Homo sapiens: one gene and its partners. The protein of the gene in region 2 interacts with the protein of the main gene of each other region in a biochemical or structural test. Each region holds a gene or a part of one and is shown on either strand. Other genes may lie near its edges. The genes, in order: SH3RF3, PAK2 and MYL2.

The links.
Region 1: the proteins of PAK2 (region 2) and SH3RF3 form a complex in vitro, tested with the Homo sapiens proteins (one study listed by BioGRID).
Region 3: of the proteins of PAK2 (region 2) and MYL2, one has a biochemical effect on the other in vitro, tested with the Homo sapiens proteins (one study listed by BioGRID).

Annotation. Positions count from the first base shown.
Region 1 is NC_000002.12:109,494,294-109,504,313, reverse strand, and holds part of SH3RF3 (E3 ubiquitin-protein ligase SH3RF3), read right to left. Parts: intron 2,812-10,020; coding exon 2,643-2,811; 3' UTR 1-2,642. UniProt on the Homo sapiens protein: Has E3 ubiquitin-protein ligase activity.
Region 2 is NC_000003.12:196,804,871-196,814,890, reverse strand, and holds part of PAK2 (serine/threonine-protein kinase PAK 2), read right to left. Parts: intron 9,540-10,020; coding exon 9,508-9,539; intron 8,313-9,507; coding exon 8,205-8,312; intron 7,110-8,204; coding exon 6,977-7,109; intron 4,302-6,976; coding exon 4,238-4,301; intron 2,673-4,237; coding exon 2,624-2,672; intron 2,153-2,623; coding exon 2,040-2,152; intron 441-2,039; coding exon 323-440; intron 1-322. UniProt on the Homo sapiens protein: Serine/threonine protein kinase that plays a role in a variety of different signaling pathways including cytoskeleton regulation, cell motility, cell cycle progression, apoptosis or proliferation.
Region 3 is NC_000012.12:110,908,786-110,918,805, forward strand, and holds the end of MYL2 (myosin regulatory light chain 2, ventricular/cardiac muscle isoform), read right to left. Parts: intron 7,006-10,020; coding exon 6,930-7,005; intron 5,540-6,929; coding exon of another isoform or gene 5,506-5,539; coding exon 5,401-5,505; intron 4,540-5,400; coding exon 4,461-4,539; intron 4,360-4,460; coding exon 4,311-4,359; intron 2,391-4,310; coding exon 2,292-2,390; 3' UTR 2,060-2,291; downstream 1-2,059. UniProt on the Homo sapiens protein: Contractile protein that plays a role in heart development and function.

The DNA of each region.
Region 1 (10,020 bases), on a different chromosome or scaffold from region 2:
ATGGCTGTGGACTCTACCATGCTCCTCAAAGGAAATCTCTGTGGCCCCCCAAGGCCACTACATGGCTAAGATGTGTACATCATGGGGCCAGGATGAAACATAAGGGTTAGTTTCATCTTAACCGCCAAACATGTGTACCCTTTGAGGCAAGATGGCCTGAAGAAAGGGCTAATTCTGCTCCTGCTCTTCTCTGCGAGCTACATCATCATGAAGGCTGCAGGGCCTGAACGAGTTTAAAATACTCAGAAATGCACATGGGCCATGCATTTCCTCTGCTCTCAGGCAGCCCGGCATTGGCTCCAGAGCTCTGGCCAGACCCACGCATCGCTCTCCTTCCTAAGGTGGCACCAACGCCCACCCGACTCTGCCCTGAAAGCGGCCAGCTGACATCCTCCAAAGACATGGAGATATTCGCCCCAGCTCTCTACCATGCTGCATGCAGTGGGCTGTGTCCTCGCCCCCCACCAGGAGGGTGAAGCACATTTCTACCTGAAGCACCACGTGGGCCATGCCTGGGAGAGTAAGAACGTTCAGGTTACTCTATTCTGTTGCTTGGTACCTGCGCGCCTTAAAAAAAAGACTTCAAAAAAGTTACCTGGAGACTTGACTTGGTCTGGTTTCCCTGGAGAACACCTGCGTCATCCAGGTTGTTGATCTGTGCACCTCTTTGGTGACAACGTGAATTTAAACACGCACAGGATTTTGGTGCAGGATGGGCAACTGATGAAGTTTGGCAATAATGGTAAATAGAGAGCTTTTGGTTGTCATTAACCTGGCACACAGAAGTTACTATGTTTAAGCCAGACTTTTTCTTCTTTGATTCTGAACAACTTCTTTGAGTCTATTAAATCTATTATCATCTTGGGGGAGGGAAAGGCATGACCCCCGCCGTGTGGTGACCACCTGGAAGTAACAAGTAGCCAAGTCACGTCCCAAAACAGGAACTCTGAAAATAAGCGGCCCGTGTTTCAAAGTCTTCATGCCAGGCAAAAGAATGTATTTCTGGAATTGGTTACATCCCTGAAAACCAATGACACCCTATGTTACCAAAGGCTAGTTTCTTCAGCTTAATTTAAGTCTGAATGGTATTTGTAAAAATATAGGTGGAGAGAGGGGTGATGGATCAAAATTTTGAGGTGATAAAAATGTGTTCCTAAGGTGTGAATCTTGAGAACAAAATTGTCCCTGAAGGGCTCCTGATCAGTCTTCCTGGGAAGTGAGCCATGGTGCTAATGAATATACATTCATCAGCCCCACTCAGGGAGGTCCCAGCATCAAAGCTGCACCTCCTCCTCTCTCGCCCTCCCAACTCCCCGATCTTGCAAGCCTGCAGCGGTGCTGCAACCCCCTGATCTCCTTGTACCTCTGGTCTCCAGCAGATGAAGGTTTGCACTGCCTGAAATGGGAGCAGTTATTTATTTTTAAAAAAGAAGAAAAATGGTGGTGGTGATCTAAACTGTTGTAGAAACTGCACATTTTGATACCAAGAAATCATCTTCTGAGAATGCTAATTGCAGTTCTCTCTGAGGCAATAAAGGGAAGATTTTGCCTTCCCGGCTGGGGTTGACCTGCGTGCTCCTTCTACCGCCACACAAAAGGACAATTATAGTGGCCCTTCCTCGAAATGTTTCCAGGTCTTGAATAATAATCATCACCGTCTAGACAGAGCGCGGGGTTTTGGTAAGAGTTTAAAGAAACCGGCTGCTTCCAAGCTCCCTCCGACCCCCTCAATGGATCCACCCCGCCAGCCCCCAGAGTACTGGCCAGCGCTGAGGTGCGGGATGGCGGCTTCTCGGCGCTCTCCCAAAGCCATATGGGAAATATAAAAATTCTGCCCCTTTGATGTCGCCTCAGACATCTTTTCTTTCAAGCTCAACCAAGTCATTATTAGTTTTACAAAAAGGCAGCACCAGATGTATGAAAAATAGGCAATGTCTGACCTATTAGAAATATATAAAGTCTAACAGCTTTATGTTAAAAATATGCTGTAAGAAAGAAGTAATGCAAGGGACAATGGTGGTGAACAGAAAGTGTTGCTTATACTACTGGCAGGCGACAAGCCCACAGATTCTGCTCTGGTTCCCAACAGGGGCGGTGGGGTGCCCCTTCCGGGGCACCCCCAGGGCCTCACAAACACCCCTGCTGAGCAGCCGGGCGGCAGGTGACTGAGGTATATAGAATGGTGACAGAGCAACCTGGGCCCCGCGGGAAGCCCAGGGCAGCCCAGAAAGATGATCTCCAGCGCTCCTGGCCCCCATGCCACCCACCTCGCCTGCAGACCTCCTGCAACCTCCAACCCTGCTTAGGTGGTAAATGAGAACGCTGCCATGGCTGCAAACCACAGCCACAGGCCTGCCTGCGCCGGCACCTGCCTCTCTTCCTCAAGGTGCTTTCTTTGCAGTTTCCACAGAGGGGGTGGGCATTTCCTTGAAGAACATCCCAGGTGTGCTCTCCGTTTGGGGGTTTTGGGAGAAGGCACGACCTCCACAGTCCCTGGCCCCCACCCTGGGCCAGGGTATCCCCCGCCAGGTGCCTTGGAGATGACCTGGAACCCTTGGGGCGCCATGGCTCCCTCTCTGTGTGCCGTGGAGCTTCCCAGGCGGCCTCCCCCTCTGTGAGCTGGGTGCAGGGAGCACCAGTTCTCAGAAGCTCTCGACGAAGCTGCCCGGGAAGAGGCCTGTGCGGCCGTTCCGCTGCAGGGTCCCCTTGTACCAGCCGTCCTCACGCTTCTTGTGCACAAAGACGATGTCGCCTTCCTTCAGCTCGATCTCCGCCTCACTCTGGGGTGGGTACGAGACCACCACGCGGTACCTGGGGAAACAGCACAGTGGGTGAGCCCCACACAGACAATCTCCATCTGCTGGGTCGTGCTTTCTCTTCTTCCCTCGGTGTAAATTATTGTTATTTGCTGCTATTTTCCCACTTTATACAATTTCTATTTATCTTTATTTTTAATTTTTTCAAAACTCTGGAAATTTTTCATTTTTTAATAAAAAAAATTTAAAAGGCATTTCCCCCTGCTGTCCTTTTAGACGCTGATCTACGAAGAAGCTGGACTGTTTCACTCCCTTGAAGATTCTCCACCCAAGCACAGCCCCCCATCTCATATCCACGCTCCTGCCCTGGCCCACCCACCTAGACTGCGGCCTCCCAGGGGCAGGGGCGGGGGAGGGTCAGGAAAAACTGTGTCCCCATTTGCCCCATCCCAGTGTCAAGACCCTGGGCTCGTGTCCTCACCTCTCCCTCTGCAGGTTCCTCTGAAAAGCACGCTCCTCAACTGCAGCACCACCTCACAGGTTGGGGCCCAATGTGATGTGTGAAAGGTACTTGGAACATTGTTTATGTAAATTGTCCTTATTTTTTTGAGACAGGGTCTTGCTCTTCCACCCAGGCTGGAGTGCCGTGGTATGATCCTAGCTCACCGAAGCCTTGAGCTCCCAGGCTCAAGTAAGCCTCCCACCTCAGCCTCCCGAATAGCTGGGACCAAGGCACATACCACCATGCCCAGCCAATTTCTAATTTTTTTTTGTAGAGATGGGGTCTTGCTATGTTGCCCAGGCTGGTCTTGAACTCCTGAGTGCAAGTGATCCGCTGGCCTCAGGCTCTCCAAGTGCTGGGATTACGAGCATGAGCCACCGTGCCTAACCTGTCCTTATTTTTAAATGTGCTCCAAAAATCATAAGATTTTTTTCCCAGTGCCTTAGCATTGGAACTGGCTGAGGCCACAACATCAACATCAATAAGGCCCAACTTTCCCCACATCTCATTTCCACAAGACTTGGGCCCCCTGCAGCCTCTGAGGCCTCTTTGGAGTCCCTGTCTTCAGACCAATATGCTGTAGTGTGGAATCAGAGACAGGAGCCTTCCCTGGGGTCTTCCCTGCATGGCCTCCGCCTGCAGGGACCCAGGGGCATGGGGTGTGCTGCGTGGCAGGTGCTGGAGCTCTGAGTGCACCCCAGGGGCTCTCTGGGCTGTGGCAGGTGCTCCTGGCAACACTTAGCTGTGGCACTGACCAAGAGTTCTCTCCTCGACCACACTCCAGCCTGGCTCCTCTGAGCCCTCTTCTTGGCTGGGCCTCACCTCTGCCTATAACAACTTGAACAACCACTAACATAGCTTCTAACAGCTCAAGGTGGCATCCCTAGGCTGACCCCAGTCCCCTTTAAAGTGCCTGCCTGAGAAACCTCACGGCAGCCAAAAGAATCGACTGTGGGTTCCAGCCACACCTGAGGACAGCCACACACTGTCTCCTGACTTCAGTGAGCACGTCAGCATGTCCAGATGTGTTCACACGGACCACCCGCTTCCACCATCTGTAACTTTTCACTTCCCCCACTCTCCTGAGCCCCCACTCGCTGCCTCCCTGCTCCCTCATTCTCTCTTGGAAACCCCCAGTCACTTGTGTGCCAATTGAACCTGAGCTCAGCTCAGCCTGGACCCTATTCCCCATTGCAAATGTCAGTTATGTTGCCGATTAAAACCTGTCTGACTACTTTCACTAGTGTCCGGCTATGATTATGTTTGACAGGACACACACACACATACACACACACCCCCCTGCTCTGCTATCCCACACCCATCCTGCAAGCCACAGAGGAGGAGGAACAAGGCTGAAAAGCAGCTGTGGTGGCCCCAGGAGAGCCTTCCTCTAAAACACTGCCAAGGACGAACCAGTTGGGCCTTGTGCCCTCGGCCCTTATGCTTAGAGTCTGACAGGCAGGGCCCCATCCCCACTCCCACTAGCTGGGCCTCCCTCTGCCCTGGGGAAACTCCACAGGGGCATGCTTGCCCGAAGCCTGGCTGGGCCCCTGCACCCCCAGCCCTTTTGTGGGTGAGGATTGTGCAGTAAGGGCTGAGAGAAGATGCCCCTGGGCCACCAGGGTGTTGGACCGCACATCTAAAGCCCAGATCCCACATGTGGTGGATTTTGTGGCAGGCAGGGTGCAGCTATTCTCTCTGCCTAAAAACCCCTGGCTGACGGTCCCTCAGACACCCACTTTGCTGAGCAGCACCGAGATGGGCCTGGCAGGGCGAAGGCACTCAATAACCAGCACTGGACTGCCCGGGTACCCATCTCCACAGACGCCGAGGCTGTCTAGGAGACACGGCCCCCGCGGCTCTGGATGCCTTCCCTGGTGGCCTCCGTGCAGGTCTCCTGTGGGTGGCTCCTGGTCCTGGCGGCTGCCCACTCTGGGCCTCCTGCTTTCACCCTGCTTGGACTGAGTTGCCTCACAGCTGAGGCTCCTTTTGGGCAAAGGCTCAGAGGGCTCCAGCAGTCCCCATCCCTCTCAGAGGAGGGGCCACAGTCTAAACGCCCCAGCATTCCCAGGCCCTCCACACTGCGCCCTTCCCACTCCACCAGCTCTGCCCTGCCGCGCCCTAGCGACCCCAGGTGCACCCACCTCAGGGCTCCTCCATATGCTGCTCCCTCTGCCCAGAACGCCCTTCCCTGTGTGGCCACGCCGGGCCTGCCCTTTCCCAGCTCTTACCATCTTCCACTGCCCAGCCATTCACCTGTTTACCCAACCCATCCTGCCTCCTGCACCAGTCTGCAAGCCCCATCGCCACAGGGATTACTGCACACCTGCTCCAAGTGTGGCTCACATACTTCAGGACCCCCCACAGTTCCCTGGGCCCATCCTGGACCTACTTGATACTACTTAGGGGGAATGAACTAGGGAATGTGGATTTTCAGCAGCTCTGGGAGGGAATGCTTGCACATTGGTGTCTGAAAATCGAGCTGAGTGCATGCTCAGGGAGGAAGCCTTTGCCCTTCCCCACCCCACGTGTTCACAGAGCCTGGGGCGCAGAAGCCATGGCTTTGGGGCAGTTTGGCTTGGTGCCAGGCTCAGGAAAAATGTGCAGACAGGAGACCAAGGCCCAGTCCTATGGAGTGCACAGCCCCTGGGCACACAGGCCCAGCTTGCACCAGGCTGGCAAGAGGAGGAGGCATGGAGGATGGGCTCCTGAGGCTGACTTGGGGGTGCAGTGTTCCTACTCCTGGGGAAGCAGAACAGGCCAGGTTCTGGGTCGCAGTCCCGAATACCAGCCAACTCTAAGTGTCTCAGAGCATCTACGGGTGCACGATGGTTGGACTGGTTCCCATGGGCTATCTGCCGGCGAACCAGACTCTGCTCTCAGGGACATGCAGGCGGGAAGGAAGGAGGGCAGGCGGAGGCACCTCCTTCCTCCCAGCTCAGCGTCTCTGTGAGGGCTTCCTGCTGGCCCTCCTTCAAGGAGGACAGATGGCTGCCGGGATGCAGCCAGCGGTCTGTGAAATCAGACAGCATACACACAAACTGAGGCTGCGAGGGCCCACAGGATCAGCGCCATCCTACCTGTGGCCTTCTGCCATCCTCCACCTCTTCCAAACACCTGCTCCTCCTCTCTCTTCCCCAAGGAAAGAAAGGAAGGCAAAGGGCGAGATGATTTCTCAGACTTTGAATGCAAGTTTTGGCTTTTGCCTCAACTTCCAGATGTGAAATAAACAAGCAGCTTTAAAAATATAATTTGTTAGAAAGATGTAATTTGGTGCTTCTGAGCAATTCAATGATTTAATGAGCCCAGATGGATGTGGGCTGAATTTATACGAGACAAGTGTTTAACGTTTCTGTCCAGATCATTCCAAGACTCTGAGCTGTTCTTCCTGCTGCAGGAAAGTAATTGATACTCCCCGTTATAGACACAGAGCGCCGTTGTCGTGTCCGTGTCAGCAGCTGAGGATGACAGCTACTCCCAGGTCACAACTGTGCGTCATAAATCAGCAAGCAACTCTGCCCTGCTGAGTATAATTAAGGTTATGGCAACCACAGCTAATTTTCAGACACAGGGCTCAAGGAATCCAAATGGGCAAAATCAGAATGAATTCTCATTCCATTATTATTACCATTAGCTCTGTGTGCGAGGTTTGGATGTTCTGCTTTCCTTGGGGGTCGTCTGCTTCCCTCCCTGACAACAGAGTCTGCAAAGTGGCCCTCCATGTGGTAGCCTTTTCAGAGCACTTGCTCCAACACAGGAAGACGAATGAGCCCCTGAGTCCATGGAATGTGCTGGTAACAGAGTGGTGTCTGCTAGGAACTTGGGGATAAGAATACTTCTATACCCTGGACACTAAACTGTAATATCAACACACATATTAGTTGTTTATGGCTATAACGAATGACCATAAATGTAGTGGCATCATACTATAAAAATATATTATAGTTCCGTCCATCAGAACTCCAACGTGGTCTCACTGGGCCAAAATCAAGGCATCTGCAAGGCTGGTTCCTCCTGCAGGCTCTAGGGTAGAAGCTGTTTCCTTGCCTTTCCAGTTGCTAGAAGCTGCCTTCATCCCTTCTCTGGAGGCTTCTTCCTCCATCTTCAAAGGGGAGTGCTCACATCATGCCACTCTGACCTTCTCCTCTGCCTCTCTCTTCTACTCATAAGGACCCTTTGTGATTACACAGGGCCCACCTGGATAATCCCGGGTAATCTCTTTATTTTAAAGTCAGCTGGTTAGCAACTTTAATTCCATCTGCAACCTGATTTCTCTTTGCCATGTATGGTAACATAGTCATGAGTTTTTAGGGTTTAGGGCATAGACATCTTTGGGGGCCATTATTCTGCTCACCACACACATAATGGATCAGATCAAGGAACGCTGAAATCCTAACAAAGCCATATAACTCACAGGCCATCAAGAGCTGAGGATGAGCTGATCCGATGTGAACATCTGGGGAGAAGCAGGTCAAAGGGGCAGGAGTCGGCCAGGCCGTGCTGCAGGTGCCCTCACCCTCACTGACTTACTATTATCATAGATGTCACAGCATATGTTACTATTAGAGAGGTCATAGTGAAAGGTGAAGCCAGCTGGACTTCCTGGGTCGAGTGGGGACTTGGAGAACTTTTCTTTCTTATGAGAGGATTGTAAAATGCACCAATCAGCACTGCAGCTAGGAGTGTAAAATGCACCAATCAGCACTCTGTAGCTAGCAAGAGGATTGTAAAATGCACCAATCAGCACTCTGTAAAATGCACCAATCAGCGCTCTGTAGCTAGCAAGAGGATTATAAAATGCAGCAATTAGTGCTCTGTAAAACGCGCCAATCAGCACTCTGTAAAATGCACCAATCCGCACTCTGTAAAATGCACCAATCAGCAGGATCCTAAAAGTAGCCAATCACAGGGAGGATGGAAAAAAGGGCGTTCTGATAGGACAAAAACAGAACATGGGAGGGGACAAATAAGGGAATAAAAGCTGGCCACCCCAGGGCAACCCGGTGGGTCCCCTTCCATGTGGAAGCTTTGTCCTTTGCTCTTCACCGCGAAGGTCTGTGGCTCAATTCTTGAAGTCAGTGAGACCACGAACCCACCAGGAACCAACTCTGGACACAATAGCATATATTATTATTGTTGTGTTTAGTGTGCACTCATACTTTTTCTGGTGTTAATCTAGGTGATTTACAAGTATTATACCCAGACATGTATTATTATCCCCATTTTATGTATGTGGAAACTAGGACTATAAAAATGAAGAAAGGGGGCCAGGTGCAGTGGCTCACGCCTCACGCCCAGCACTCTGGGAATCCGAGGTGGGCGGATCACTTGTGGCCATGAGTTTGAGACCAGCCTGGCTAACATGGCGAAACCCCGTCTCTACTAAAAATACAAAAATCAGCCAGGCATGTCAGTGGACGCCTGTAATCAATCCCAGCTACTTGGGAAGCTGGGCACAAGAATTGCTTAAATCTGGGAGGCGGAGGTTGCAGTGGGCCAAGATTGCACCGCTGCACACTCCAGCAGACAGAGTGAGACTTTGTCTCAAAAAAAAAAAAAAAAAAAAAAAAAAAAAAAAGGAATGAAAGATATTCAGGATGAAATGGCCGGTAGGTGGCCCAGAGTGTCTGTCTACTCAAAGCCTCTCTACGATACTTGATACTGCCAAGGTGCAGAAGAGCCAGGAGGCAGGCATCCAGTGGGCAGGAGGGGCTGGTCCCAGAACTCAGCTTGCCTGGCCCTGCACCAGAACAGACCAGGGTTGGTGTAGCTGGGGAACTGGGGCATTAGACGGTTCTAACCTGATGCCATGTGCATTTGCTGCCTGCATTTCCCATGACCACACCCGTATTCTGAGTTCCACAAGCAACTTCTGGAAATTCAGCTCCCTCTGCACATAGTCCGCAGGACAAGAATATGCCAGACACCTAAAGATGAGGTCCTCTTGGAAGGAACGGGGCATGGCCCTCTAGGTGACTTACACCCCAGGCTCGTGGGCTTGGCTCATAAGTCTACTTACGAGACTGGCCTGCTGCCTGCCAGCTGCTGGGGCAGGGCAGCTGAGCCTGCCAGCCTCGCTGACCCGGCCCCAGATTGCTGCTCACAGTACACTCCCCTAGTCCTTTCTCAGAGGAGCTCCCTCTGCAGCACCTTCTACTTGAATGTCCTTCCTCTGAGAGTGGAGAGGAGAGCAGCGCCCGCTCTCTTTCCAGAGTCTTGAAAGAGATGGTTGAGATCTGGAGGAGTCTGGGCACAGGAAAGGCCCAAGAAATGCAGGCAGCAACACTGCCCATTCCTCCTTGGCATTTTGGGGTGGAAACCTTGACCCTGACAGCCCATACTGCCCTGCTGCCTGCATTCCCACTTTCATGATCACAGGTGGGCCTTGCACACCTGAGGCCCTCCAGGAGTGCTTGGCAGCTGAGTGTTCTGGCCCCACTGCAGGGACTCTCACCTCTGCACAGGGCGCAGCCCAGCAGCTCCTCCTCCAAAGTAAGCCTGGAAGTAAGTTTTACTCACAAGTCTGCAGGGCCCAAGTCCAAGTGCTCTCTGGTGCTGTCCCAGCCCGAGGAGTCAGCATTTTCCCAGTCATGCCCTCAGCTCCGACCTGCTAGGGCTCCCCAGGATACCAGGCAGCCTGTGGCTACCATGTTGAGGGGAGGGGGCACTTCTGGGGCTCATGAGCAGTTTGGTTTCAGGCTGTTTTTTGGAAACACTTCTCTTTAATGAGTGCTACAGAGTGCTTGGGTGCAAGGAGCCACC
Region 2 (10,020 bases):
TGTATTTCTAATGATATATACCCTTTTACTCTCAAAAGTGTCCTGTTTGGATGGTAAATGATCATCATCACTCTACCAGAATTTCCTTGTGAATCTGGATCTTCAAAGGTCCACAATTCATTCCCAAATTATCTTATACCTGAAGGAAAGGGCTGAAACTCCTGTGTAGGATGAAATGGCACGGAGATGGAGTAATTTGCAGAGAATGTATACAGAGAAAGCACCTCCCACAATAACAATTACCTGTGCAGAAAAATTTCCTTTTGTTCACTTCTTGCTAACCACATATCACCATAACATATCAAGAAGGAGGCAAACCTACCTCTCTGCATACAGCAGCAATCTGTGCTTCATCCATGCACGTTTCTGTTACCACATCAGTGAGTGACCCCCCAGCAAGGTATTCCATGACCACAAACAATTCATCTCCTACCAGGTAACTAAAAATACAACATACCAAATACAGTCACACTTTTATTTTTCCTAAACACATGGTATTCTATGTTGAAGAATTCAAATATTAAACACCCTAACAATAAAACTAGAGCTGGTAGCTTGAGAGTTAGGAAGAAAACTGGAAAGCTGCTACGTAACAGCACAGAAAAATAACTGAAGTTATGATCCTGAATCATTTTAAAGTTACAGTTTGCCCACAACTGTAGTTTGAGTATGCACATAGCTCATTCTGATTAAAATAACCCTACAATATAGAAATTACTAGTCCTGTTTTAGAGATAAACAGACAAAGGCTTGGAGAGGTGAAGTGACTCATCCAAGGGCACACAGCTATTAATAGGAAGTGACAGAACCAGAATATGAAGCCAAGGATCAACGATTCCGAAGCCCCTGGCTTATCTTAACCACCACACTATGCTGACTTGAAATGTTATTTTAAAAAGCAGGGAACTGTACCTGAAAAGTTTATTTTTTATTTATTTTTTTGAGACAGAGTCTTGCTCTGTTGCCAGGCTGGAGTGCAGTGGCGCGATCTCGGCTCACTGCAGCCTCCACCTCTTGGGTTCAAGCAATTCTCCTGCCTCAGCCTCCTGAGGAGCTGGGACTACAGGTGTGCGGCACCATGCCCAGCTAATTTTTGTATTTTTAGTAGAGACAGGGTTTCACCACGTTGGCCAGGATGGTCTCGATCTCATGACCTGGTGATCCACCTGCCTCGGCCTCCCAAAGTGCTGGGATTACAGGCGTGAGCTACCGTGCCTAGCCTGAAAAGTTTATTTCTATGAACATGTTCTCCATAACTAGGGATAAAGTCTCTAAACATTATTTTTTCCTCATTCTAAACAAATTTAAATATGGAAGAAAATCACCTATAATCACCTCTATCTTCAATAAAACCACTGTTATCATTTTCAACGAATCTTCTCTCATGCAGTTGTAGTAATATACATCATTTTCTTTTCTTTTTTTTTTTTTTTGAGATGGAGTCTCATTCCATTGCCCAGGCTGGAGTGCAGTGGTGCGATCTCGGCTCACTGCAACCTCCACCTCCTGGGTTCAAGCAATTCTCCTGCCTCAGCCTCCTGAGTAGCTGGGATTACAGGTGTGAGCCACTGCACCCAGCCAATATGCATCATTTTCTATTCTGCTTTTTGGTCTGTTATTTAACATTAATTCCTCAACTAAATGAGGTTTTGATAGACATATAAATTTGTCCATGAAGGATAGCATTTGAAATAAAAATTGATCCACAAGTTTAAAAACCATGTAACCAGTCCCCTCTGTCAGTCAAGACACGAATCACAGCCAACCATTCATGTGTTCGCTTCAGGTCGTTTGCGATGAGTATAAACACCACCAGCTATGGCCTTCAATTAACTGCCTTCTCTCACCTGCCAAGTGATGTCCTTGCAGAGAAGGACCTTCTAAAACTGCACTGTGCTATTTTTACCTCTCCTCTTCTTTCTTCCATCTTATTTCTCGGCACTGACAGTTTATTCCAAAGTGGCCAGCCCCACCCCCGAAACCATGAGACTTAAAATTTCTACATTTTCTCCCGGTGTTTAAGGAATAGTCATACTTACCTGTCCAAAAAGTTAACGATGTTGGGATTTTTCAATTCTTTCATCACCAGAATCTCGTTAATGATCAGTTCCTTCTTTGGCTGTTTCTGTAAATTAATTTGTTTGATAGCAACCTATAATGAAAACAGGATTGAAAAAAACCAGGTTTAGGAATTCTCTTAGAAAATTACAAACCCCAAGCAGTTGATAACTCACGGTACGTGTACTGTATTACACCATGCTATTACTCCCAGGTGGCACCTTGCCTTGCACACTGCCTGTGCACAATGCTTTGTAATGTTTAGAACCTAGTTTTAGATTTATCTTGAAGTTGATTAATACACCCACAGTCAGTCCAATACTAAGAATTAATCCTCTTTTCACTTCAAGCTGAGGAAACAATTTTTAAGTATTTGCTTATTTATGACATTGAACTCATAAGTCCTTCCCCGCCTTACTGACAGAAGTGCTATAAACATACGTAGAGCGATTCTTACAACGGGCTCAACTTAAAAGAGGTTCCTATTGCTTCTTCCCAGCTTCATCTAGTTTCCACCTATATGACAAAATAATGGTAACACCCAGGATTACAACAAAGTAACTACCTCCTGTCCCAGTGCAACGTCAGTAGCAGTGAAAACTGTACCAGAAGCCCTAGAGGGAGAAAACACACAACCAGATTTAAGGTTGATAAATCACTAGCATTTGCAATATCCAAAGACTTTACACTTCAAGCAATTGAAAAAGAATTAAAGAACAGGATGACCTAACGTGCTTAAAAGGAGTAAAAGCAAAAACCTGAGGAAAGGGGGTGGGGGAAGAAAGAGACAATCCTTACGGCAAAACTTATGTGTGAAATATTTCAGACCTACAAAAATGTAGGGAAAAAAGAGCAGGAAAAAAATTATATAACATATACTTAAGGATACACTTCCCTGATTAAGATACAAATAACTGTAAATAATTTGAAGATTCCCATAAGCCCTTTCCGACAGCAGTCTCCTTCCTCCCAAAGGTGATCTGTATTTGGTGTTTATCCTGTATTTGGTGTTCATCATTTTCATGCATTTCTCCATACTTTTAACTACAAAGGACGCAGATATGTATCCCTATAAAATATACTTTGTCTAATTTTTAAACGTCATATAGTTTCATTTCACATATTATTCTGCAACTTGCTTTTGTGACTCAACACTGGATTTGTGATGGTCATCCATATGGATAGGTATTGCTTGTTCATTCATGCTCAAAAATAGTAAGATAATCTTCAATTCTCTTTCATAAAACCAGTGCTGCAATTGAATTTAGCTGTTAGGAAGAAATTCAGGCCTGGTGCAGTGGCTCACACCTGTAATCCCAACACTTTGGGAGGCTGAGGCAGAAGAATCGTTTGAACCCGGGAGGCAGAGGTTGCAGTGAGCTGAGATTATGTCACTGCACTCCAGCCTGAGTGACAGACTCCGCCAAAAAAAAAAAAAAAAAAAAAGGGAAGGAAGGAAGAGAAGGAAGGGAAGGGAGGGAAGGAAGGGAGGGAAGGGAGGGAAGGGAAGGAAGGAAAGGAAGGGAAGGAAGGGAGGGAGGGAAGGGAGGGAAGGGAGGGAAGGGAAGGAAGGGAGGGAGGGGAGGGAGGGAAGGAAGGGAAGGGAAGGGAGGGAGGGAAGGGAAGGAAGGGAGGAAGGAATTCATATGGAAGTTTTCAAAAATGGCTTAAGCCCTCACTCTAAATTCACAGAATGCTTTCCAGAGTTTAATAACATTAAAAATTTAGGTGTTTATTTGCTTCCAAGCAACAGAAAAAAGGAGTTTAGTTAGTATACTTTAAAAATACAAATTACACAACAAAATCAGAAGATCAGTAGACTCAAAAGTCAATACACAATGACATGATTTAAATGCATTTTTTATTGCTTATAGTCATGCAGTAAATATTCTTATTGTCTTTTAAATATATTTTATGGGCAATTCTTCCCTCTAATTATCACAGATGGGAAATGACACTTAAGAAAAAATAATGATACACAGTCATTGCTAACAACTAGTACAGTTTTTTAACAGCATCTACAAATAACTGCATTATTTATTTACACAAATCCCCCAAGGGTACCACTCACAGAATACTATATAAGTACTTGATGTCGGCAGGCAAAATAAACATCATGCTATAAAGCCAGGAAATACTGAATACTGAATATTATCGTAATACAGTCACAAATACTTACCCTTGTCCAATTTTTTCATATCTTGTATATTTTTTCTTAGGGTCACCTATGCTCACGATAGTTCCTAGAATAAACAAAAAGCTGGAAGCTCAGTCAAGCATTTTAAGTGTAAATTGATTGTGATATTATTATTCCTTTTAATGAACTCCACTGTTTTTATAAGTGATTTTCAAACATAATACTAAGTTCCAAAAATAACAGGTTTCAAACACAAAACACTAAAGAAACTTAAATACATAATAAAAGTTTAAAAGTATCAGAAACAAGACACATTAAAAGTTTAAAAGTAACAGAAACAAGAAGACACATTATTTCCATTAGGTTAGACCTCCTAACTAATCATTTGCTCAATAATGGTCACATTTTGAAAAGACTGTACCAGTTTGTCAGAGATTAATTAGGTTCTCAGATGTTCAGCTTTAGAATCAGGTAATCTCAAGAAAATAGACATATTTGAATATAAAATAGATATATTTGAATATAGAAATAGATATATTTGAATATATCTATTAATAGGTAAGTTTGAGACTACTTAGTATTATAAATAATAAAGGCTATCTAAACCCTAAATGGTCTTTCTGACTCTTCCAGTATACATTTCATCTTTCAATATATTTAGAAAACCACTTATTACCATAAAAATTACTATGCTCTGACATAAACTAATCATATGTTTGTTTTAGGAAAGTTCAAAGTCACAAGAAAGAGGTTTTAAAATTAGGAAGTTGGACATAAAATCCTAACTTATATTCTTATTACTAGTAAGAAAAACCACATTAAACTTTCACTTGCTCAAGGTAAAAAAGGACAGGACCATATCAAGGAAACTGACATAAATAGTTTTATGTAGGTACCCAACCTCAAGTCAACAAGCAAAGAAACAGGATCAATAATAAGAGGCTAAGAACAAAAAGATACCAAAAAGACTGGGGATGTGACAGCTAAAGGTCACAACTAAATGATGACAATTAGGATTCTAGTTAATTTTTTTTTTTTTTTTAAGTAGCAGCTCTCCTAAAATAATTCTTATATGCTCATAGAGTAACAGAGCAGGCCAGGTGTGGTGACTCATGCCTGAGGTCAGGAGTTTGAGACCAGCCCAGCCAACATGGTGAAACCCCATCTCTACTAAAACTACAAAAATTAGCGGGGTGTGGTGGCGCACACCTGTAGCCCCAGCTACTCGGGAGGCTGAGGCAGAAGAAACGCTTGAACTGGAGAGGCAGAGATTGCAGTGAGCCACGCCACTGCACTCCAGCCTGGGTGACAGAGCGAGACTCTGTCTCAAAAAAAAAAAAAAAAAAAGATAATAATAATAACAGAGTAAGAGCCAGGTTTATACTTGAAAGCACTGAGAAATCAAAACCAAATAAACATGGGGCATATAAACATTTGTTTATTTTTTAGAGACAGGGTCTCACTCTGTCACCCAGGCTGGAGTGCAGTGGCGCAATCACAGCTCACTACAGCCTTGAACTCACGGGCTCAAGCAATCCTCCTGCCTCAGGCTCCCAGTCAGCTGGGACTACAGACATGCACCACCAGGTCTCGTTAATTTTCTTTTTTTCTTTTTTTTTTGAGGGGGTGGAGTCGGGGTCTAAGTTGTATAGTTCGGCCTTGAACTCCTGGACTCCAGCTATCCTCCTATCTTGGCCAGCCAACGTACCGAGATTATAGGTTTGAGCCACTATGCCCAGGCTTTATGTTTAAAACAATCCTTCCATACAGTATTTTTCCTTGAACCCTCTAGATTAGCATTCTTTAATTGTTAATTTTATTTATTATTATTTTTTGAGACTGAGTCTCGCTCTTTCGCCCAGGCTGGAGTGCAGTGGCACGATCTCGGCTCACTGCAATCTCCGCCTCCCAGGTTCAAGTGATTCTCCTGCCTTAGCTCCCCAAGTAGCTGGGATTACAGGCACCTGCCATGACACCTTGCTAATTTTTGTTTTTAGTAGAGATGGGGTTTTGCCACATTGGCCAGGCTAGTCTTGCTCCTGACCTCAAGTGATCCACCCACCTTGGTCTCCCAAAGTGCTGGGATTATAGGCATGAGCCACAGTGCCCGGCCGGTTCGCTTTTTTTTTTTTTTTTTTGAGATGGAGTCTCACTGTTGCCAGGCTGGAGTGCAGTGGCGCGATCTCGGCTCACTATAACCTCCGCCTCCCGGGTTCAAGTGATTCTCTTGCCTCAGCCTCCCAAGCAGCTGGTACTACAGGCACATGCCACCATGCCCAGCTGATTTTTGTATTTTTAGTAGAGGAGGGGTTTCACCATACTGGCCAGGATGGTCTCGATCTCCTGACCTTGTGATCCGCCCACCTCGGCCTCCCAAAGTGCTGGGATTACAGGCGTGAGCCACCGCGCCCAGCCCAACGACGCAATCTTGGCTCACTGCAACCTCCACCTCCTGGGTTCAAGTGATTCTCTTGCCTCAGCCTCCAAGTAGCTGGGATTACAGGCACATGCCAGCACATCCAGCTAATTTTTGTATTTTTAGTAGAGACGGGGTTTCACCATGTTGGCCAGGCTGGTCTTGATCTCCTGACCTAGTGCTGGGATTTAGGGGTGAACCTGGTGACATCACCAGATTGTAATTGAAGCTACTGTTGCTATAAGGAAACAATTTATTCTTTATACTTTAAGTCACAATGTAAAGTGTAAGTTAAAATCCATCTGGGCCAAATGTTTTAAGAGCCGTGAACAATTTAACAATGATGTAAAATGTAGATAACATACTTAATTTCTCCATAATCTCTTCATCTGTCATCTTAGTCTTCTTTTTCTGTTTGTCTAAAGACTTGGCAGCACCATCAACATGTGAATCACCAACTGGTGCAGGAACAGGGTCAATTACAGACCGTGTGTAAATCTGTGGAGACACAGTTCATTACCAAGGTTTGAGGAATAATGTTTTCAGATATTCTTCCTGGCAAACTAATTCAGTTCTTTGATTTTTAACCTGAACTAAGTAGTCTTTTCCATTGTTCTAAATAATGAGAACACTATTTTCAGATATAAAAGATGTGTAACTAAGAAGAATAAATGTGAAACATTTTTCTTTGGCATAGCATGAATATATTTGAAAAGCTGTCTAGTAAAACAGCAGGTCCATGAATGAAATTTAAGTGTGACCAGGTCTAAAATGGTATAACAATGTATCAAAAAGCACGGTTTAAAAATCATGTTTTTACTACAAATGGTAAGTAAAATGCAAAAGAACAGAAACCTTGATGTTGAAATAACTATTATTAATTCCCATGAAAGTTTTTACACAATTATAATGCCTACCACCCATTTCAAACAGCCAGATTGAAAGGCTAAAGAAAACGGAGTCCTCTGCCATCAGCTTGGCATCCAGAGGCTGTCTCCTGAGCTCTGCCTGCCCGCTGTGCCAGGAGCACAGCCCATTCCACGGCACAGCACCTTCCGCACACTCTACCTGCAGTACTGAAGGGAGCAGAATGGTAACCGCAGTCATTCCTCTCTTCCTGGCTCCATTTAAGGTCATCATTTTTAAAATTCTCCCTTACCTGGTTAGGAATTTCATTCTCAACTGCCTTTTGAATGACAGCAAGGCGCTGAGAGTAGTGTAAAATGGGAGATTAAAATGCATAATCTGGGTAAGAGGAAAGCTCTAAGTTTTAGATTTAGTCGTCATCTACATTGAGATAAACAGAGAAAGCTTGGGAAATAGACGAACCCTCTGGAAAAGGTGTACTATACAAAGAAAAAAGCCCAGTGAGGTGAGTGCGTTAACTTTTAAAGACATCACATTTTAATCTTCAGAAAACTAGTTTTAGGTGAGTGGTCTTTGGGTACAGATTTCTTGGTTAAATTTCCCCATACTAAACGATTTTAAACTTGAGGGCTTTTTAAAAGCAATCACTGAAAGTCAAATACAAACTCTGCTATTTTTTAAAACACACGTGCACACACACAGCCTAGATCACCGATGGAGACTCACTGATTTCGTATGATCCGGTCGCGGGGCAATAACGGGAGGAGCAGTCTCTTCATCATCATCCTCCTCCTCTGTCACTACTGCGGGTGCTTCTGTTCCCTTGGCATTCAGCTGCATTGATGATGAGCAAAGTAAGGAAAACAAGTCCAATAGGCTTAAATGCGACTATCGCCCTTTATGAACGTACTTCAAAAAGTTTGCTTCTTTGATAGCTCATTTCAAAACCACTAAATCTCATTAGCTCTTAGATAACTCAATAGAATTATAATCTAACATAATAAGGCGATTCTATGAATCATGAAAAAGTTTATGAAATATATATATATGGTGAGTACCAAATATTTTAATAAAGTTACCCTAAGCATACATATACAATGTCCTGAAAGTAAACAATGTTACTTGTTAAGACCAAAATCAAAGATCCTCTGGGCTTTGTTATGTCAGAGACATCTGGTGACATTTAAAACAGTCAGATTTGGGGCCGGGCATGGTGGCTCACGTCTGTAATCCCAGCACTTTGGGAGGCCGAGGTGGGTGGATCACAAGGTCAGGAGATCAAGACCATCCTGGCTAACACGGTAAAACCCCGTCTCTACTAAAAACACAAAAAATTAGCTGGTCGTGGTGGCAGGCGCCTGTAGTCCCAGCTACTCGGGAGGCTGAGGCAGGAGAATGGAGTGAACCCAGAAGACGGTGCGTGCAGTGAGCCAAGATTGCGCCACTGCACTCCAGCCTGGGCGACAGAGCGAGACTCTAACTCAAAAAAAATAAAAATAAAATAAATAAATAAATAAAATAAAATAAAATATAAAAAAATAAAACTCCAGGAGACTGTTTCCTCCCAATTGAGAAACTGCAAATAAAACGACTGTTTCCAAAAACTGACTGTGTTTATGCGATAACTTAAGTTTCAGATGACTCTGAAGACTGACAAGGTTCAACTGTTCAGCACCTTTCCACAGTCTATATTCAGTAAAATAGTACCAGAAGGAAAACTGAGGGATGGAGAGGAAAATATATGCTAGCAAGTTCTTTGTGTTCACGTTTGTATATGTTAACATTACCAAAACTAACTAAACTGTTCTGAAGGTCATTATAAATTTTAGTTACATTAAGTATCACATCAAGGAATTTCTATTTAATACGGCTTCTTCAACTAATCAGGTGGCTAGCTAAAAACACCTATTGAGTAGTTATTTACCTCTGATGGCTGTAATTTATTTTAGAAAGCAAAATAAAAACTGAGATTTGTCTTGGGTAACCTAAATTAGAACAAGAGATACAAGAAATAATATAATTAACTTACTGCTGGTGTTCCAGAAGGAAAGCCATCTTTCTCTGAATATGAAACAAAACATAACATTAGCAATTCAAGAAACAGCACTTTTATATGATAAAAGGAAAAAAAAAAAGCAGAGAAAGTGAAATGTTCTTAAACTGATTTCAAGTTGAATTAACTCTTGAGAAAAATGAACACGCAAGTAGTCAAATAAGAATTTATATAAGACCAAGGTAAGAAATCTGAAATCTACATGAAACTATAAATTTAGTAAAAATCAGTGAATTATATATTTAAAATGGGTGAATTGTATTGCATGTAAATTATACCTCAATAAAGCTATCAAAATTTAGTTTGAAAGTATACCTATCAATCTGTATTTATTAAAACAAAACAAATTTATTGATAAAGATACTTTCTCCAGAAAACTGCTGACTGAGGAACTTAATGCAACAATTAAGACAATGACAATTGTGCAAAGTAAAATTCTGACATTGTTTTGTTTTTCTTTTAAAAATGCCCAGAGACATACATATATGT
Region 3 (10,020 bases), on a different chromosome or scaffold from region 2:
CCTGAGTCCCGCCTTCTTGGTGCCGGACTGCATCTCTGACCACAGGAGCCCGGGTATGAGGCTCTCGGCCTGGACCAACTCTGGAGTGCAGGGAAGCCGTGAGGGGCGAGGGTCACCACAGGGTGTGGGGTGTCCTGGGTCATGGGGATGGGGCCATGACTCCCCTGGGTCCCTGCCCACGCAGCCTGCTTTGAAAGGGGCCCCAGGTCTCTGCAGCCAGGGGACAGTTTCATTCGTCTTGTTAATGGCTCAGCCCTGAGCTCCTCCCACTGTTGTCATTGTCAAGCCTTGAGGACTGGCCCTAACTGTGGCTCCTCTGGCCTCCTGGGTCCTCCTGCCTTCACTGTGACCCCAGCTCCACTCCGTCACCACATTTCAGCTTCTTCCCATCACATCACTGACTTGGGCTGTGTCCTGGGTTCTTGGGTTCTTAGGAGTCTCTCTCTCTCTCTCTCTTTTTTTTTTTTTTTCCGAGACGGAGTTTGGCTCTGTCGCCCAGGCTGGAGTGATCTCAGCTCAGTGAGTGGTGTGATCTCAGCTCACTGCAACCTCCACCTCCCGGGTTCAAGTGATTCTCTTGCCTCAGCCTACTGAGTAGCTGGGATTACAGGCATGTGCCACCATGCCTGGTTAATTTTTGTATTCTTAGTAGAGACGGGGTTTTGCCATTTTGGCCAGGCTGGTCTCGAACTCCTGACCTCAAGCCATCTGCCTGACTCGACCTCCCAAAGTGCTGGGAGGGTTCTTGGGATTCTCTTGAAAACTTGAAGTACCCGAAGTCCACTCCCTGCTTCTTCTTGGGTTTTCCTCTGGGGAATCTTCCCTCCCATCTCCAGGCCATATGGTTCAGGAGGACTCTGATTTCAACCCCAGCACAGGGCTGATCATTTGAGCCAGGCCTGTCCATCAGAGCACTGCCCTTGCCAGTCCATGGTGATTGGCTCAGGGGTGTCAAGTGCCCCAGAGGGATCCCACAAGGCCCTGTTCTGATGTTTGTGTGGAGCTGGAAGAGAGAGGAGTACGCTCTTCTAGGATTGCTGAGGGGCTGGAAAAGGGGCAGGAGCTGCTCTTAATTATTTTGCCACTGCTGAGAGCAGAGCAACGTGACAGAAAACAGAGGCCTCCCCAGCCTCTGAGGGCACTGCCTGGGCTCCTAGGTGCAATTGTGCTTGAAGCCCTTGGACTTCTTAGTTATTTGAACCTATTTCTGTTTTTTTTTTTTTTCCTTTTCTAAGAGACAGAGTCTTACTCTGCCACCCAGGCTGGAGTGCAGTTCACTGCAGCCTCGACCTCCTGGGCTCAAGCGATCTTCCCACTGCAGCCTCCTGGGTAGCTGAGACCACAGGTGCACACCACCATGCCTGGCTATTTATTTTTTATAGAGATTGGATCTCACTATGTTGCCTAGGCTGGTCTCAAACTTTTGGGCTCAAGTGATCCTCCTGCCTCAGCCTCTCAAAGCGCTAGCATCACAGGCGTGAGCCACCACACCTGGCCCTATTTGTTTCTTACACTGGGACTCTTGCAGCCATAACAGACCTGAATGCTTCAACCGTGACTGTGGTCATTCAAAATCAAAGGTCAACTCACATCCAGGCCTGGGCCCCAGACAGAGACAGAAGTCAGTACCACTCCCTCAGTTTGCTAGGGAAGAAGTACAGACAACTTCTACTTTATCTGAAACTAGAAGTCACCCTCTTAGGATTAGCAGGTGTGATTACTGTTGAACGAGCTATGTTCCTACCATGTGTCAGTCCGCTTCCTTCTTGTCACTGTCACTGGCAGGAGAGGCATTCCGATGGCATCCCAAGGGACAGATGTCATGGAAGCAAGGCCCTCTAAATGCTTGAGCTCTTTGGAAGAGAGGGCTTTGGTCATCCAGGTAACATTCCAGGAAAACGTGATCCTTGATAGAAACAGTTCTGAGTGGCTGCAAAGGTCTACCTTAAATAAAGAGTCACCAAGATTCAATAATAATGACTGCAAGGCTGTCACTAGCTCATCTGCCTTTGCCTTCCTTACACAAGGCACTGTTTGTCAGAGAAATGTCGTGACCAAATACACGACCTCCTGTTTATTGGAACATGGCCTCTGGATGGATTTCCAACTGTAGGATGTGCGGCCACGAAGTACCCATAGCCACCCAGGCTGCAAAGAAGATGGAGGTGGATAAATGGGGCAGCCACATGGCTAACAGACAAGGTAGGGACAGAGGCGGTACTCGGGGGAGAGAGATGAGGGCAGGGACCACTCTGCAAAGACGAGCCCAGGGCGCAGCAGCGAGCCCCCTCCTAGTCCTTCTCTTCTCCGTGGGTGATGATGTGCACCAGGTTCTTGTAGTCCAAGTTGCCAGTCACGTCAGGGGGGAAGGCGGCGAACATCTGGTCAACCTGCAATGAGCCAGCAACACGTGCTAAGGACGAGGGGAGGGGAACTGAGACGGAGGGTGGGGGGCTGTGGGCGGGGCCTGAGTGGACGGATAGCTGGGGGGTGGGGGATGGGAACATGGGCCACTCAGAGGGTCCTCCGGGGAAGGACTTCCCCAGCTGCTGCAGGGCCCCCTCGCCCAAGGTCATGCCCTTTCTGGGGCAGCCCACAGCCAGCGGATGGGATTGGTGTGGGGGTATAAAGGCACGGCCATCTCGCCCAACTTGGTACCTCTCAGGAGAGCTGTAGAATAAGCTCCCTCCCTGGGTAGTCAGCAGTGCCGATCTTTGGGCCTAAATCTTGGCTCAACTTCTTCCTTCATGCACTTTTCCTTCCTTGCCCTTCCCTGTTCTTCCTTTCTTGCCCTTCCCTGTTCTTCCTTCCCTGACCCCAAGGGCCCTCCCAAGTAAACATCATGCAGAGATGTCCCTGGAAACCCAGCCTTCCACTGGGATCACAAACTCAAGGGTTCCGAGGGGCCAGGCAGGTTATGCAAGGGAGCAGGATAGGTCCTATGGCTAAATGGAGACACGTGGCCATCTAAAAAGGTGACATGAAGTGACCACAGGGTCCAGGGTGTCAGAAATCTAGATTTTTGTTTTTACACAAAATTTCCCCATTTAAAAAGCATTGGCTAGTTATTATTATTATTTTTTTAAAACATACTGGCTATTCATAGCTAGCACTTATATTGCCCTTGCCACAAGTTCACACTTTCCCCACATTAACATGTCGAATCCTCGCAATCTCCTATGAGGTAGCTTCTATTATTATTCCCACTTTACAGATGAGGAAATTGAGGTGCAGTGAGGTTAAGGAGCTTGTTCAAAGCACACAGCAGGTGGAAAGTGAAGGCAGCCCTTTTAGCTGCTTGAATTTTGGGGGAGGGAAAATCTACATACAATTTTTAGTAAAATGTGGAACTTGATGGAAACAGGCCTGTGAGGCTATGAGGGGAGCATTTAAAATCGACTCATTAAGGTTCACTAATAAGGTTGACGGCACCATTGCTTGCTCATACAGAAGCTTTGGCAAATTAGCAAAAGTGCCCCTTCTACCAAACTCACTACCGCACCACCTGAGTTGAAAAAAAAAAAAATTATTACCAGACACTTTACTGCCAGTTCTGGAAAGCTGTTGCAACAAATACACAGTCTGATGACTTTTATGAAACTGACATTTAGAAGAATTGTTCAGTGCACAACTCACATGACAGTATGTGGCGGCCCTTCACGCCATAATAATGTCATGCTCTAAGCAGGTCTCTATGCATCGTGAGCAAGGCAGAACCTGCAGTCACGCAGACCTAGGTTTGAATCTAGGTCCTGGCATTTACTATTAGTGTTGTTATTTTATTTTATTTTTGAGACAGAGTCTTGCTCTGTTGCCCAGACTGGAGTGCAGTGGCATGATCTTGGCTCATTGCAACCTCTGCCTCCCGGGTTCAAGCGATTCTCGTGCCATGCGTCAGCCTCCTGAGTGGCTGGGAATACAGGCGTCCACCACCATGCCCAGCTAATTTTTGTATTTTTAGTAGAGACAGGGTTTCCTCATGTTGGCTAGGCTGGTCTCAAACTCCTGGTCTCAAGTGATCCTCCTGCCTTGGCCTCCCAAAGTGCTGGGATTACAGGTGTGATTATTGTTATTTTAGATGAGTGACTTTACTTCCCTGGGTCTCAGTTTGCCTATCTGTAAAATGGCAGTTATGCCAGTCCCTACCTCATAGGGTGGCAGAGAATGAAATGAGGCCAGGCCTCAGAAGACGATAGCTGGTTCTCTGTCAGTGTGGGGTCAGGGGTGCTTTAGACGAGAGGGGAGACGGAGCCCCCCAGAAGGAGAACCCAGGAGCTGGGTTAGAGGGAGTGCTTGAAGGACCCCATTACCTCCTCCTTGGAAAACCTCTCCGCCTGCGTGGTCAGCATTTCCCGAACGCTGCAGAGAAAGGAAAGCAGGTGTTGGTGTCAGTTGTGTGTGTGTAGGGGGGACAGGGGGCAAGCAGGGAACCCCCTTCCTCCCCCACAGACCCCACTCACTAATCAGCCTTCAGCACCCCTTTGCCTTCAGGGTCAAACACTTTGAATGCGTTGAGAATGGTTTCCTCAGGGTCCGCTCCTGAAACGGAACACAGGGCTTACATGTACTGGGGGTGGCTGGGAACCACTGGCACCCCAGGCAGCAGGGCCCAAGTTCCCCCAGAGATGAAGGGGCCAGAGCAAGGCTGCTTTGCATGGAGGAAAAAGACCCTGCTTTCGTCTGATCACTGAGCCTCTGTATTTCGAAGAGAGGGCTGAGAACCCAAGGTCAAACATCATCTAGATTTGAAAGCCTGGGATTCAAATCTTAACCCTGGCACTTGCTAGCCATGTGGCCTCAGACAAGGGACTTTCTGTCTCTTAGTCTCAGTTCCCCATCTGTAAACTGGTGATAAGAATAGAGCATACCTCCTAGTTGCTATTAAGTGGGGTAATGCATATAAAGTGGTTAGCATGAGGTCTGACTTAGGTTAAGTCTTGGAGCAATGTTAGTTGCTGTGTTTTTGTTTTGTTTTGTTTTGTTTTGAGACAGAGTCTCACCTTGTTACCAAGGCCGGAGTGCAGTGGCACAATGTCAGCTCACTGCAACCTCTGACATCCCGGTTCAAGGGATTCTCCCGCCTCAGCCTCCTGAGTACCTGGGACTACAGGTGCACACCACCATGCCTGGCTAATTTTTTTGTGTGTTTTTAGTACAGATGGGGTTTCACCATGTTGGCCAGGTTGGTCTTGAACTCCTGACCTCAAGTGATCTGCCCGCCTCGGCCTCTGAAAGTGCTGGGGATTACAGGCATCAGCCACTGCGCCCAGCCAAGTTGCTGTTTTCATTATTTTTTTCCAATGGTGCTTTATCTCTTTTAAAGTTAACCATCTTCTGCCAGCCCCCCCGAAGAAACATAGACACATACACACAGACACACACACACACACACGACCTTACCCTTAAGTTTCTCCCCAAACATTGTGAGGAACACAGTAAAGTTAATTGGACCCGGAGCCTCCTTGATCATTTCATCAATTTCTTCATTTTTCACGTTCACTCGCCCTAGGGTAGGAAACACACACTCAGGGACTCCGAGCTGGGGAGAAAGAACCATTATGACACTGCCATTGGCTCCTGGGATTCCACTTCAAGAAATCTAGTCTAGAAATCATCAGAGATGGGGTGGATGGAGGCAAAGATCTTTTCTGAGAAGATGTTCTTGACAGTGTTATTTATAATAACCAAATGACTGGAAGCGACCCTAACATCTGATGTGGGAAGGTGTTCGTTATTTATTTATTTTTCTTTGAGACAGGGTCTGGCTGTGTCACCCAGGCTGGAGTGTAGTGGTACAATCTCGACTCACTGTAACCTCCGCCTCCCAGGTTCAAGCGATTCTCGTGCCTCAGCCTCCCAAGTAGCTGGGATTGCAGGTGCATGCCACCATGCCTGGCTAATTTTTGTAGTTTTTTGGACAGACAGGGTTTTGCCATGTTGCCCAGGCAGGTCTCGAAGTCCTGGGTTCAAGTGGTCCTCCAGCCTACGCCTCCCAAAGTGCTGGGATTACAGGTGTGAGCCACCATGCCGGCCAGTTCATTATATTTAAAATAGTGTCTTCAGAACCTGGAACATTTGATGCAGATATTTTCATTTTTCACTCAAATGGGAAAGGCTCATGTTGTAAATTAGCCCTTCACAGTTGGAGGCGGGAGAGACAGATCAGGATCACCTGAGGGAACTTTTACAAGTTAAACCTGCTGTAACCCACAGCCGTGGAGGTTCTGATTTACCTGCTCTAGTCCTGCCACAAGCCTAACTTTGTGCAAATAAGAAAAATCTGTCATTTTTTAAGCCAATGTATGTTTTAAGTATAAAAAGCTACACTCACTACAAATGTGAATACTTCCCTGTAGAATTGTGCAGTGCGCAGTCTGCACAGCTGTGTATGGTTGCCCTGAGTTCTAAGGTCAGGAGTAAGTGGTGGTGGCGGGTAGCAGATTGGGCATGTATATTTTGAAGAAACTCCATGTACTCATGCTCACACTGTTGAGATGATACATTTTAGAAGATAAATTCGAAAGAGAATGATTCCAATAATTTAAAAAACTAAAACCCAAACCTAACAGACATGTCTAGAAAGACTTAGAGGAGGGACTGGAATGTTCACAGTGGAATATGACCTTCTGGGTGATGTCATTTTCTCCTTTATACTTTTCTGCATTTTTTCCCCATTTTCTGTTGTGAGCTGACATTGCATTCAAAATCACACAAAAAAGTTATTTCAAGAGAAAAAAAAGATATCTGAAGGTACTCAAAGACTAAACACTTCTTTCCCATCCCCTGAAATTTGTCTTAAAGACCAGTTGTGGCAGAGTTGTTTCTTTGGGAAATGACACCATCTTGAGCTTTTCTGATGGTCCCACCTCCTGCTCCTCATGGATGTGAGATAAAGAGACCCTCATGCAGGGCTAGAGAGGGTGACATACCAAGGGCAGCAAAGGTGTCTCTCAGATCGTTCTTGTCAATGAAGCCATCCCTGTTCTGGTCCATGATAGTGAAGGCCTGTGGAAGGGAAGTGATTGGCAGCTCAGCCTGGGAGAAACTGGCAGAGTTGCCCAAGAGATTGGGCCAAGGACTTGGCAGGAGTGGATTCTGGGATCTTCAAAGATCATTGTAGGACCTCAGATTAAAAGTCAACAATTGAAGATAATCCAACAGTTTCTTCAAAACGTCAGGCCTCGTGTTATCATATGACCCAGACATTCCACTGCTAGATATATACCCAAGAGAATTGAAAACATGTCCACATAAAAGCCTGTACACAAGGCTGGGCACAGTGGCTCACGCCTGTAATCCCAGCACTTTGGGAGGCCTAGGCCCGTGGGTTACTTGAGGTCAGGAATTCAAGACCAGCCTGGCCAACATGGTGAAACTCCGTCTCTATTAAAAATACAAAAATTAGCCAGGCGTGGTGGCGCATGCCTGTAATCCTAGCTACTTGGGAGGCCGAGGTAGGAGAATTGCTTGAACCCAGGAGGCAGAGCTTGCAGTGAGCTGAGATCATGCCACTGCATTCCAACCTGGATGACAGAGCAAGACTCCATCTCGGAAAACAAAAACAAAAACAAAAAAACCTGAACACAAATGTGTATAGCAGCATCGTTCACAGTAGCCCAAAACTGAAAATAACCTACATGTCCATCAACTGATGAATGGATAAACCAAATGTGGTCTGTCCATACAATGGAATATTATTCAGCCATAAAAAGGAGGGAAATTCCTACAAAGGTTACAACATGGATGAGCCTTAAAACATCAGTGAAAGAAGCCAGACACAAATACCACATATTGTATGATTCAATTTCTATGAAATGTCCAGAACAGGAAATTCATGGAGACAGAAAATGGATTAGCAGTTGCCAGGGGCTGGTGGGAGAGGGAGGAGCAGGAAGTGACTGCTAATGGGTATGGGGTTTCTTTCGGGGGTGATGGAAATATTCTGAAATTAGATAGTGGTGATGGTTGCACAACTTTGTGAGTATACTGCAAACCACAAAACTGCACACTTCAAGGGTGAATTTTATGGTATGCAAATTATAACTCTATAAAGCTATTTATTTATTTATTTATTTATTTTTGAGAAAGAGTCTTGCTATGTCACCCAGGCCGCAGTGCAGTGGTGCAATCTCGGCTCACTGTAACCTCCGCCTCCCGGGTTCAAGCGATTCTCCTGCCTCAGCCTCCCGAGTAGCTGGGAGTATAGACGCGCATCACCAATGCCCAGCTTATTTTTCTTTAGTAGAGTCAGGGTTTCACCACGTTGGCCAGGCTGGTCTCAACCTCCTGACCTCAAGTGATCTGCCCACCTTAGCCTCCCAAAGTGCTGTGATTGCAGGTGTGAGCCACTGTGCCTGGCCCGTGATTCCTCATTTGTAAAACACTTGGGCATTTATAAAGTTCTGAGAATCTCCCTGACTGTCAGCTGAGATAGATTACTGGTCCCATTTTATAGATAGGGCAGGCTAGGGAGTGGAGAGGCCAGATGAGACACCAGTTTTTAGCTTTTTAAAAAATAATAGCTTTAGGCCAGGTGCAGTGGCTCACGCCTGTAATCCCAGCACTTTGGAGGCCGAGGCGGAGGGATCACTTGAGGCCAGGAGTTTGAGACCAGCCGGGCCAACACAGTGAAACCCTGTCTCTAGTAAAAATACAAAAAAATTAGCCAGGCATGGTGGTGAGTACCTGTAATCCCATTTACTCAGACAAACAAACAAACAAACAAACAAACAAACAGACCAAATGGGGAATCCTGGCTACATGTTTTGAGTTCTTTGCATCCCTTACCCACACCGCCGGCAGCTGATGCCAGAGGCTGGGAAAAGAGGCGGGTGTAGCTTTCTGCCTGGAAGGTGACTATCTCAAGTTCAGATATGACACTTGCCTCAGGAATTTCTCTTTCCCTATGGGACACGGCATTCCTGCAATCTGAATGTTAGTGAGGACAAAAGGTACGACTGTTCATTTCCTGTTTGGAAGCCCCAAATGGTTTCCCCTTTGATATAAAGCACACTAGGGCAGGGTGTAGTGGCTCATGCCTGTAATCCCAGCACTTTGGGAGGTCAAGGCAGGAGAATTGCTCGAGCCCAGGAGTTTGAGACCAGCCTGGGCAACACAGGGGGACTCAATCTTTACAAAAATCACAAAAATTAGCTGGGCACAGTGGTGTGTACCTGTGGTCCCAGCTACTCAGGAGGCTGAGGTGGGAGGATTGATTAATCTGGGAGGTTGATGCTGCAGGGAGCCGTGGTTGTGCCACTGCACTCTAGCCTGGGTGACAGAGCGAGACTCTGTCACACGCACAAAAAAAGAAAGCAGTCTGGTCTCTTTAGCATCATTTTAGCATAGTTCCCTCTGGAAAGCCAGGTGGGAATGTGGATGAGTCAGTGTGAGCCCTCGCAACGGCTGGAAAATGAATTCTGAGCCTGTCCATCCAAGCCCGTGTGCAGTTTGGCCTAATTGGTACTTTGGTTCTCTTCATAAGGTCCATTGCCATCAAATGCGATGGGGTTTCAAATGGGGCTAGTGGTTAATAATCAAAGACTGTAAAATGTAAAACCCAGAAGATACTGCTTTTCACCTCTCAGACTGGCAAAAAAAAATTGTGACTATTAATACCCAGCGTTGATGGAAATGTGGGGAAAGGCACGAGGCTGCTGGGCATAGGAATTAGTGCTGTGATTTTGGGGGGCAATTCGGACCAGCAGTTCTGCCTGTTTTTAGTTCTTTTGTTGTTGTTGTTTTAAGTTCCTTTGACCCAGCAGTTCTGCTTTTAGGAATTTACCCCCAAGAAATAACCAGAGATACAAGCAAAGAGGTGTTATTTATAGTAGTAAAACATTATAAACAAATGTCATATTTAACCATAGGAAATGGTTTAAATACATGATAGGAAATGTTAATGGTGAATTTCTCAACGAAAAAAATGCAGGTGTAATCAGTGGGCACAGAAGATTATAATTTTGTTTAATAAATATATACATAGATAACAAAAATGGTTTGAAGGGTATATACTAAAAT